Linked DNA regions of Homo sapiens. The protein of the gene in region 1 purifies or fractionates together with the protein of each later gene. This does not show direct contact. Each region holds a gene or a part of one and is shown on either strand. Other genes may lie near its edges.

The links.
Region 2: the proteins of RAP1B (region 1) and MAP3K4 purify together in Homo sapiens (affinity purification with mass spectrometry, with the first as the bait; one large-scale study listed by BioGRID). This does not show direct contact.

What each region holds. Positions count from the first base shown.
Region 1 is NC_000012.12:68,655,679-68,659,746, forward strand, and holds part of RAP1B (ras-related protein Rap-1b isoform 1 precursor), read left to right. Parts: intron 1-627; coding exon 628-771; intron 772-1,422; coding exon 1,423-1,509; 3' UTR 1,510-1,539; intron 1,540-3,601; 3' UTR 3,602-4,068. UniProt on the Homo sapiens protein: GTP-binding protein that possesses intrinsic GTPase activity. Contributes to the polarizing activity of KRIT1 and CDH5 in the establishment and maintenance of correct endothelial cell polarity and vascular lumen.
Region 2 is NC_000006.12:161,046,899-161,050,966, forward strand, and holds part of MAP3K4 (mitogen-activated protein kinase kinase kinase 4), read left to right. Parts: intron 1-1,717; coding exon 1,718-3,081; intron 3,082-4,068. UniProt on the Homo sapiens protein: Component of a protein kinase signal transduction cascade. Activates the CSBP2, P38 and JNK MAPK pathways, but not the ERK pathway. Specifically phosphorylates and activates MAP2K4 and MAP2K6.

The DNA.
Region 1 (4,068 bases):
GCGTGTGTCACCATACCCAGCTAATTTTTGTGTTTTTAGTAGAAACAGGGTTTCGCCATGTTGGCCAGGCTGGTCTCCAACTCCTGACCTCAGGTGATCCACCCGCCTCGGCCTCCCAAAGTGCTGGGATTACAGGCGTGAGCCACTGTGCCTGGCCTTGATTGACTTTTTTAATACAAGACTATGAGAAACTAAAAATTCTATTTTGGGAGCCTTCCGTCCATTATGATAAAATTTTAAGGTTTTTTCCCCCCATCTCTCATAACAGGATCATAGCTTGTTTTCTCAAAAGTTTATGTAAAAGTGTCTTATTTATGTCTACATTGACTAGGTTGTGTTCATTTTACTTAACATATGAGAGTTTTCTTTCTCTCTTTTCTTCCCTTTGGAGTTATCGTTTGCATCTCCATGAAAAGAGAAGGCAGTGGAGATAATTGACATCAAAGTTAATACTTATGTTTATGTTACAGATTAAATTGTTAAGGCTGTAAATTTTATTATACATTATTTAATATTTTTTGTGGCATATGAAAAGTAATTCTTAGATTTGACTCTTAGAATTCTTTTGATTTGAATTCATATAGCATATTTACTTATTTATTTTTACTCTCACAAATGTATTTTTAGGTTCCAATGATTCTTGTTGGTAATAAGTGTGACTTGGAAGATGAAAGAGTTGTAGGGAAGGAACAAGGTCAAAATCTAGCAAGACAATGGAACAACTGTGCATTCTTAGAATCTTCTGCAAAATCAAAAATAAATGTTAATGAGGTATGGTCAAATATACTTAAAATGGGTCTTCATTTGAAGTACAACATTGAAGATGAATGGAAAATGTCTTAACCCCAAGTTAATATGTACTCAGGGTAATATGTTGATGTTACAGGCAAAAAAAAAAAACCCTCATGTTAAATGTATCTATGTAGTAAATAAACAATACTATTTCAGTCTCTATTAAATACTTGTACATTGATATTTACCATGAAAAAGGAAGACTGGACAGAAAATACATGGATAGGGAAGACAGATTAAGACTTCAGGTATATGAAGGATGTTATATGAAAAATAGAGTAAAATTCCGAAAAGTATGCATGGTTCTTGAAAGGCTCCAAGTCATGTTGTAGAGCAAAAACTTACAGTTTTTAAAAGGATTTTTTCTTTGTGTGATGGTAAATGTTCTAATTGAACTAAGTTAAGATCTCTGCAGCTCCTTCAACTAAGTATTTTAAGGAGCACAATATTAACACTCCCCAAAAATTTGAGCTTGGCAGTTATAACACCTGATTTTATTCTCATTCCTTAGCTGAACAATTCTGGGCATTAATTTATATCCATGGAAATTTCTGTTTTTTCAATTTACTTTTTTCATTGGGGGGGATAGGTGTTCCTCCTGTAAATTAAAACAAATTATTGTATTTGCAGATCTTTTATGACCTAGTGCGGCAAATTAACAGAAAAACTCCAGTGCCTGGGAAGGCTCGCAAAAAGTCATCATGTCAGCTGCTTTAATATACTAAATGCATTGTAGCTCTGAGCCAGGTATGTTCACTTATCTTTCCTCTAACTTTTAATCACTCAACCTTATTAAGGGCACTCTGTCATGAAAGCAAGTATAGACTTCTTTTTGTTGGTTCTGAAAAATAAATGGTTTATTTTTATAAGATATCCATGAGTTAGTATGCTATCTTATTAATTATTTACTTATCATCATGAGTAAAGTATTTCACATAAGTATTCTTTTTTTGAGATGGAGTTTCACTCTGTCACCCAGGCTGGAGTGCAGTGGCGCAATATCAGCTCCCTGCAACCTCCGCCTCCCAGGTTCAAGCAATGCTTCTGCCTCAGCCTCCCGAGTAGCTGGGATTACAGGCACGTGCCACCACGCCCGGCTAGTTTTTTTGTATTTTTAGTAGAGATGGTGTTTCACCATTGTTGGCCAGGATGGTCTCAATCTCTTGACCTCGTGATCTGCCCACCTCGGCCTCCCAAAGTGCTGAGATTACAGGCGTGAGCCACCACTCCCAGCCAACCCCGTCCCTAATTTAAAACACACACACACACACACACACACACACACACACACACACACACACACGTGCGCGCGTGCGCGTGAGCCACCGCTCCCAGCCAACCGTCCCTAATTTAAAACACACACACACACACACACCCCTGACATGTTCATCATGTGCCAGTCACACACACACACACACCCCTGACATGTTCATCATGTGCCACTTTTTTTTTTTTCCTTCAACTTTTAAGTTCCAGGATACATGTGCAGGATGTGCAGGTTTGTTACATAGGTAAAGGTGTACCATGGGGTTTGCTGCACAGATCTTGCATCGGTACCTGGCACATAGTTAACACTCAACTATTAGCTGCTGCTGTTTGCCAATGATAATGGTTTCCTCTTCAGCTGTCATTAAACTGTTTATTGTTAAACTGTTAATTTATTCTTAAGAACCTTTGACATTCCTGACTCTTATTTCTTCCTATGTTAATTGACTCAGTGCTGCCATAGCACTTTGATTCTGCATCTTTTCAGAGTTTTTATTCCTGCCTTCCATCTAGGGCTTTCTGTTTAGTGGTATATCCTCTCATTCTAATATCCTATAATTCCTGACCACATGCCCATTCTTAGCAGCACACATGTGCTTGAGCTCACACACTTCCATCTGTCCTTTTTAATTTGCAACAGTCTGCCAGGATTTAGAAAACTTGATTGCAAACCTCATTCAGACTCAGAATGAGGACCTAAAGTTCTAGGCATTTGTGAAAATTATTTCAACAGCCACATATGTATTAACAACTCTTCTGGAGCTTGTAACAAGTCTGATCACCAGAAAAATATAATAGGGAACATTTTTTTAGCCGAGGCATGTATGCAGAAAACTATTCAAAGTACATATTTAACAATTCTAAGTTTACTTTTTAAAATCTTTAATTACATGTGATTTTAGTGTAATACCACCTTTTTCTGACATCAGTCTTAATAGAATGTTTAAATATGGAATTAGAAATTATATAACGTGATTGTAAATCTGTAAAACACCATCATGAAATAAATTCTATTTGTCTGCTCTGAACGAGCTTTTTAGCCACTTTCATTGAAAGAGTGAGGAAGAACTTGATTATCTGATACTAGAAACCTTGGTTAGATGTGCATTCTATACTTATGATCTAATTCTAGGAGTACATTACGATTGTGTAAACACAGGATCACCCAGTTTGTTAATATTGCTATCTGACTTTTCAATCCTAATTCTAATAAGGTTGACTTGACTAACAATTTTAATGTGATTTTTTTCCTTTTTAATCCTTGGAAGGTAATGCACAAAAATTTGCACAAAGGTACTTTCCCTTTCTGTTCCTAAGATTTTCATTTAACTGACTTTCAAGAGGGCAGCAGAATAGACTTCATCTTTTTGGAATGAAAAGGTCTGCCGTGAATTGTGGTATGTTGCCACTAATGTAATGCCTAGAACAAGAGCCTAGATTATATTCATTTCTAACACTTTTAAGACTGTTTTCTTAACTGTTTGCTTTTGGGTCTTTACTTTTTCTAGCCCATGTTTTTAATTAATTTTTTTCCTTTTGACAGGTCTGAAGAACTGTTGCCCAATTCAACAGTGCCAGCATTCCAACTTTGTTAAACCTACCAACATCTTAAATGGACTTTCCTGTGGTGGTACCCTTTAAGAGGCGGATGAAAGCTACTATATCAGTTTGCACATTCTAATCACTTTCCAGTATCACAAGAGAGATTTTTACTTATATAATAGTCCTAGAGTTTGCAGCTGGTAAAACCAGAGGCTACATCCAGTATTACTGCTAAGAGACATTCTTCATCCACCAATGTTGTACATGTATGAAAATGGTGTACTGTATACTTTAACATGCCCCATACTTTGTATTGGAGAGTACAATAATGTAAATCCTAAAAGCACCACTATTTTAGCATAATAAAAGAAAGTCCAAAGAGCTCCTATATAGACTACTCCAGATAACTTCGCTTCTTTGATACTTGTAGCTTATTGTAATTTTTTTTAAGAAATTCAAGGTCATTAT
Region 2 (4,068 bases), on another chromosome or scaffold:
ATATACTAAGAAAATTATATAATAATTTCTTAGTATAATTATTATATTAATATATATAATAAAATTCTTAGTATATAAGAAATATATACTAAGAGATTATAATATATTCTAAGGTAAAAACAGCTTATAATTGATGGTGTGTTCTTATAATTGGAATTTTTATTTATTTAAAGAGATCTTTTATACTTTCTGATATGTAGATATATATTTCACTTATGCATATATATATATATATATATATATATATGTTTAAAAAAATGGGCCAGGCATAGTGGCTCATGCCTGTAATCTCAGCACTTTGGGAGACAGAGGTGGGAGGATTGTTTGAGCCCAGGAATTTGGGACCAGCTTAGGAAACATAGTGGGATCCTGTCTCTACCCAAAAAAAAAAATTAGCTGGGTGTGGTGATGCGTGCCTGTGGTTCTAGCTACTTGGGAGGCTGAGGCGGGAGGATCACTCGAGCCCAGGAAGTTGAGGCTGCACTCCAGCCTGTCTCAGAAAAAAAGAAAAATGTAAATGAAAAATATTGGCAAATATGTCCCTAAAACTTACTTATATCATCATTGATTATATATAACGTTCTAATTTCAGAGATGTTAATGTATGAAAAAATGTGTGTCCTAGATTCAATGAAATAAACTATGCCTTGAGTGTAGAGGGTAGATTGAGATGGCGTTATAGGTTTGGGCATTATCGATATATGATGTGGAAATGAATGAGATCACCCAGGGAGAAGAGATCTAAGATTAGCACTTGGAGAAACATTAACATTTTATGTAGTGAGCAAAGCTCCAAGGAGGTATTTGAAAAGAAGGGACTAACTTAAGGAAGTGTAAGAACCCAGAAGCAACAGAATGAAAGGATTTCAGTAACGTAGAGCAATTAATAGTGTTAAAAGTGCCATACAGGATGTATGTGTGTTCATTTTAAAGCTTGGAATCAGATTATAGAACCTCTTCTAGATGTTTGAAGGAAGTGGGTGGTTTTTGCTTTTTTCGCATTAATTGTAAATGATTTTACATGGCAGTATAACATACTAAGCAAATTATACCAAATTAGTCTATATGTCTTCAGTCTTGCTAATTTTAAATTTAAAATGTTATTGCCCACTTGTTTGTGGCAAAGGAGAAATAAAGGAATAGAATAAACTAACGTCAGTGTTTTTGTCTGTCAACTGTCTTTCAGTTTTTTATGAGAATAATCTTAGGGTGCCTTAAGTATTCTTGCATCAATGTGCCTAATTTTATCAATGAGAAAAGTAATCCAGATAATTTACGTGATTTCCTCTTAAGTTTACACATTTAGCTAATGACAAATGCAGGAATTAAATATATTTTCTCATCCAGGTGTCCGTCAGATCTCCCATGCTGTTTCTTCCTCCTTAAATTGAAGGTGATTACTTACGGAAATTTGGTTAAATGATTTGATAACTATGCTTTGTAGCATAGAGAGAAATAAACAGCTAGTTTAGGTAATTAGTTGTGAATATAAGAGAATACAGCAAATACTGGAAAAATGGATAATTTTTTTTAAAATATAGAAAATGTCATATATATTTTTTGATTCCTTTAATTTTTAGGATATGGTATGCTTTTTTTTCTTCCATTAGCAGTCTGAAAATATAAATATGTGTGAATACCAGTTTTATTGAAAATATTGAGAGTAGCTTCATATTTTAGAGTTATATAATGTTCTGTTTATTTTTTTTTTTAATAGAAAAAATGAATGCACCAAATCAGCCTCCACATAAAGACACTGGAAAAACAGTGGAGAATGTGGAAGAATACAGCTATAAGCAGGAGAAAAAGATCCGAGCAGCTCTTAGAACAACAGAGCGTGATCGTAAAAAAAATGTACAGTGCTCATTCATGTTAGACTCAGTGGGTGGATCTTTGCCAAAAAAATCAATTCCAGATGTGGATCTCAATAAGCCTTACCTCAGCCTTGGCTGTAGCAATGCTAAGCTTCCAGTATCTGTGCCCATGCCTATAGCCAGACCTGCACGCCAGACTTCTAGGACTGACTGTCCAGCAGATCGTTTAAAGTTTTTTGAAACTTTACGACTTTTGCTAAAGCTTACCTCAGTCTCAAAGAAAAAAGACAGGGAGCAAAGAGGACAAGAAAATACGTCTGGTTTCTGGCTTAACCGATCTAACGAACTGATCTGGTTAGAGCTACAAGCCTGGCATGCAGGACGGACAATTAACGACCAGGACTTCTTTTTATATACAGCCCGTCAAGCCATCCCAGATATTATTAATGAAATCCTTACTTTCAAAGTCGACTATGGGAGCTTCGCCTTTGTTAGAGATAGAGCTGGTTTTAATGGTACTTCAGTAGAAGGGCAGTGCAAAGCCACTCCTGGAACAAAGATTGTAGGTTACTCAACACATCATGAGCATCTCCAACGCCAGAGGGTCTCATTTGAGCAGGTAAAACGGATAATGGAGCTGCTAGAGTACATAGAAGCACTTTATCCATCATTGCAGGCTCTTCAGAAGGACTATGAAAAATATGCTGCAAAAGACTTCCAGGACAGGGTGCAGGCACTCTGTTTGTGGTTAAACATCACAAAAGACTTAAATCAGAAATTAAGGATTATGGGCACTGTTTTGGGCATCAAGAATTTATCAGACATTGGCTGGCCAGTGTTTGAAATCCCTTCCCCTCGACCATCCAAAGGTAATGAGCCGGAGTATGAGGGTGATGACACAGAAGGAGAATTAAAGGAGTTGGAAAGTAGTACGGATGAGAGTGAAGAAGAACAAATCTCTGATCCTAGGGTACCGGAAATCAGACAGCCCATAGATAACAGCTTCGACATCCAGTCGCGGGACTGCATATCCAAGAAGCTTGAGAGGCTCGAATCTGAGGATGATTCTCTTGGCTGGGGAGCACCAGACTGGAGCACAGAAGCAGGCTTTAGTAGACATTGTCTGACTTCTATTTATAGACCATTTGTAGACAAAGCACTGAAGCAGATGGGGTTAAGAAAGTTAATTTTAAGACTTCACAAGCTAATGGATGGTTCCTTGCAAAGGGCACGTATAGCATTGGTAAAGAACGATCGTCCAGTGGAGGTAGGTTTCCAGTAGGTATTAATACAATGATATCCTTAGTTCCATTTATTTATTGCAAATTATAATGTTGGTGTTATGTACTTTCATATTCTAATATTTTTGAACACAAATGGCAGTTATAAATTGCACATTTAAGCATTTCTGTAAAGTACTATGATTAAATAGATCTATGAAAACTGCATGAAATTTAGTGAATTAAGTGCAGGGTGGTATGTGGAGGGAATAAGTTCAACCACGTAAATACAGGATGGCAAAGGACAGGCTGGGTATAAACAAAAATGGAAGGAAGAAAGCCATAGTCATGGATGACCACAAGCTGCATGTGAGTCAGGAAAAAAGTCCACGTCACACTCAGGTGTTTATAAATGAATAGGGCGCCCAAGGTCAAGGAGAGAGTTCTTTCTCTATCCTTTGAAGTTGTTTTCTCTCTTTTGATTAGCATGTCAAGTTTTGGTCACTGTATTTTAAAGAGATGTAAATTATAGAGAAATGTCAGAATGATCAAGGGGAAAAAGCCAACACTATCTCGCAAGGTTAAAGTGTTCGGTGCAGGTGATGAAAGTTTAAGGGAAGTCCTGATTTTTGTCAGATATGTGTTTCGATATGTGTAGATTTTTGTGAGAGGAATGTGCCCACTAGAGGAAGTGACTTGAAAACAGTATAGATTTGCTTTTGATAGCTTGACGTGTTATAAATTCCTTATTGTAAAGGGTGGTAATACTAGACAAGGGCATTTTGTGGGATATCATTCTTGAGAGTCCAAAATAGTACTGTACAAGTGATTTTGCTTTTCTGGTGAGTTTGCATGTTCGTCTGGCTAAAAGTGAAACCCAAATCTTTGAAATACCTTATACCCGTGTTAAGTCTGTGATTCTGAATTTTAGTAGCTGTATACATACATATGTACAATCCCCTTGGTATCAGAGGTGGTTTGGTTTTGGGACTTCCCACGGATCCCAAAATCCGAAAATGCTCAAGTCCCTCATA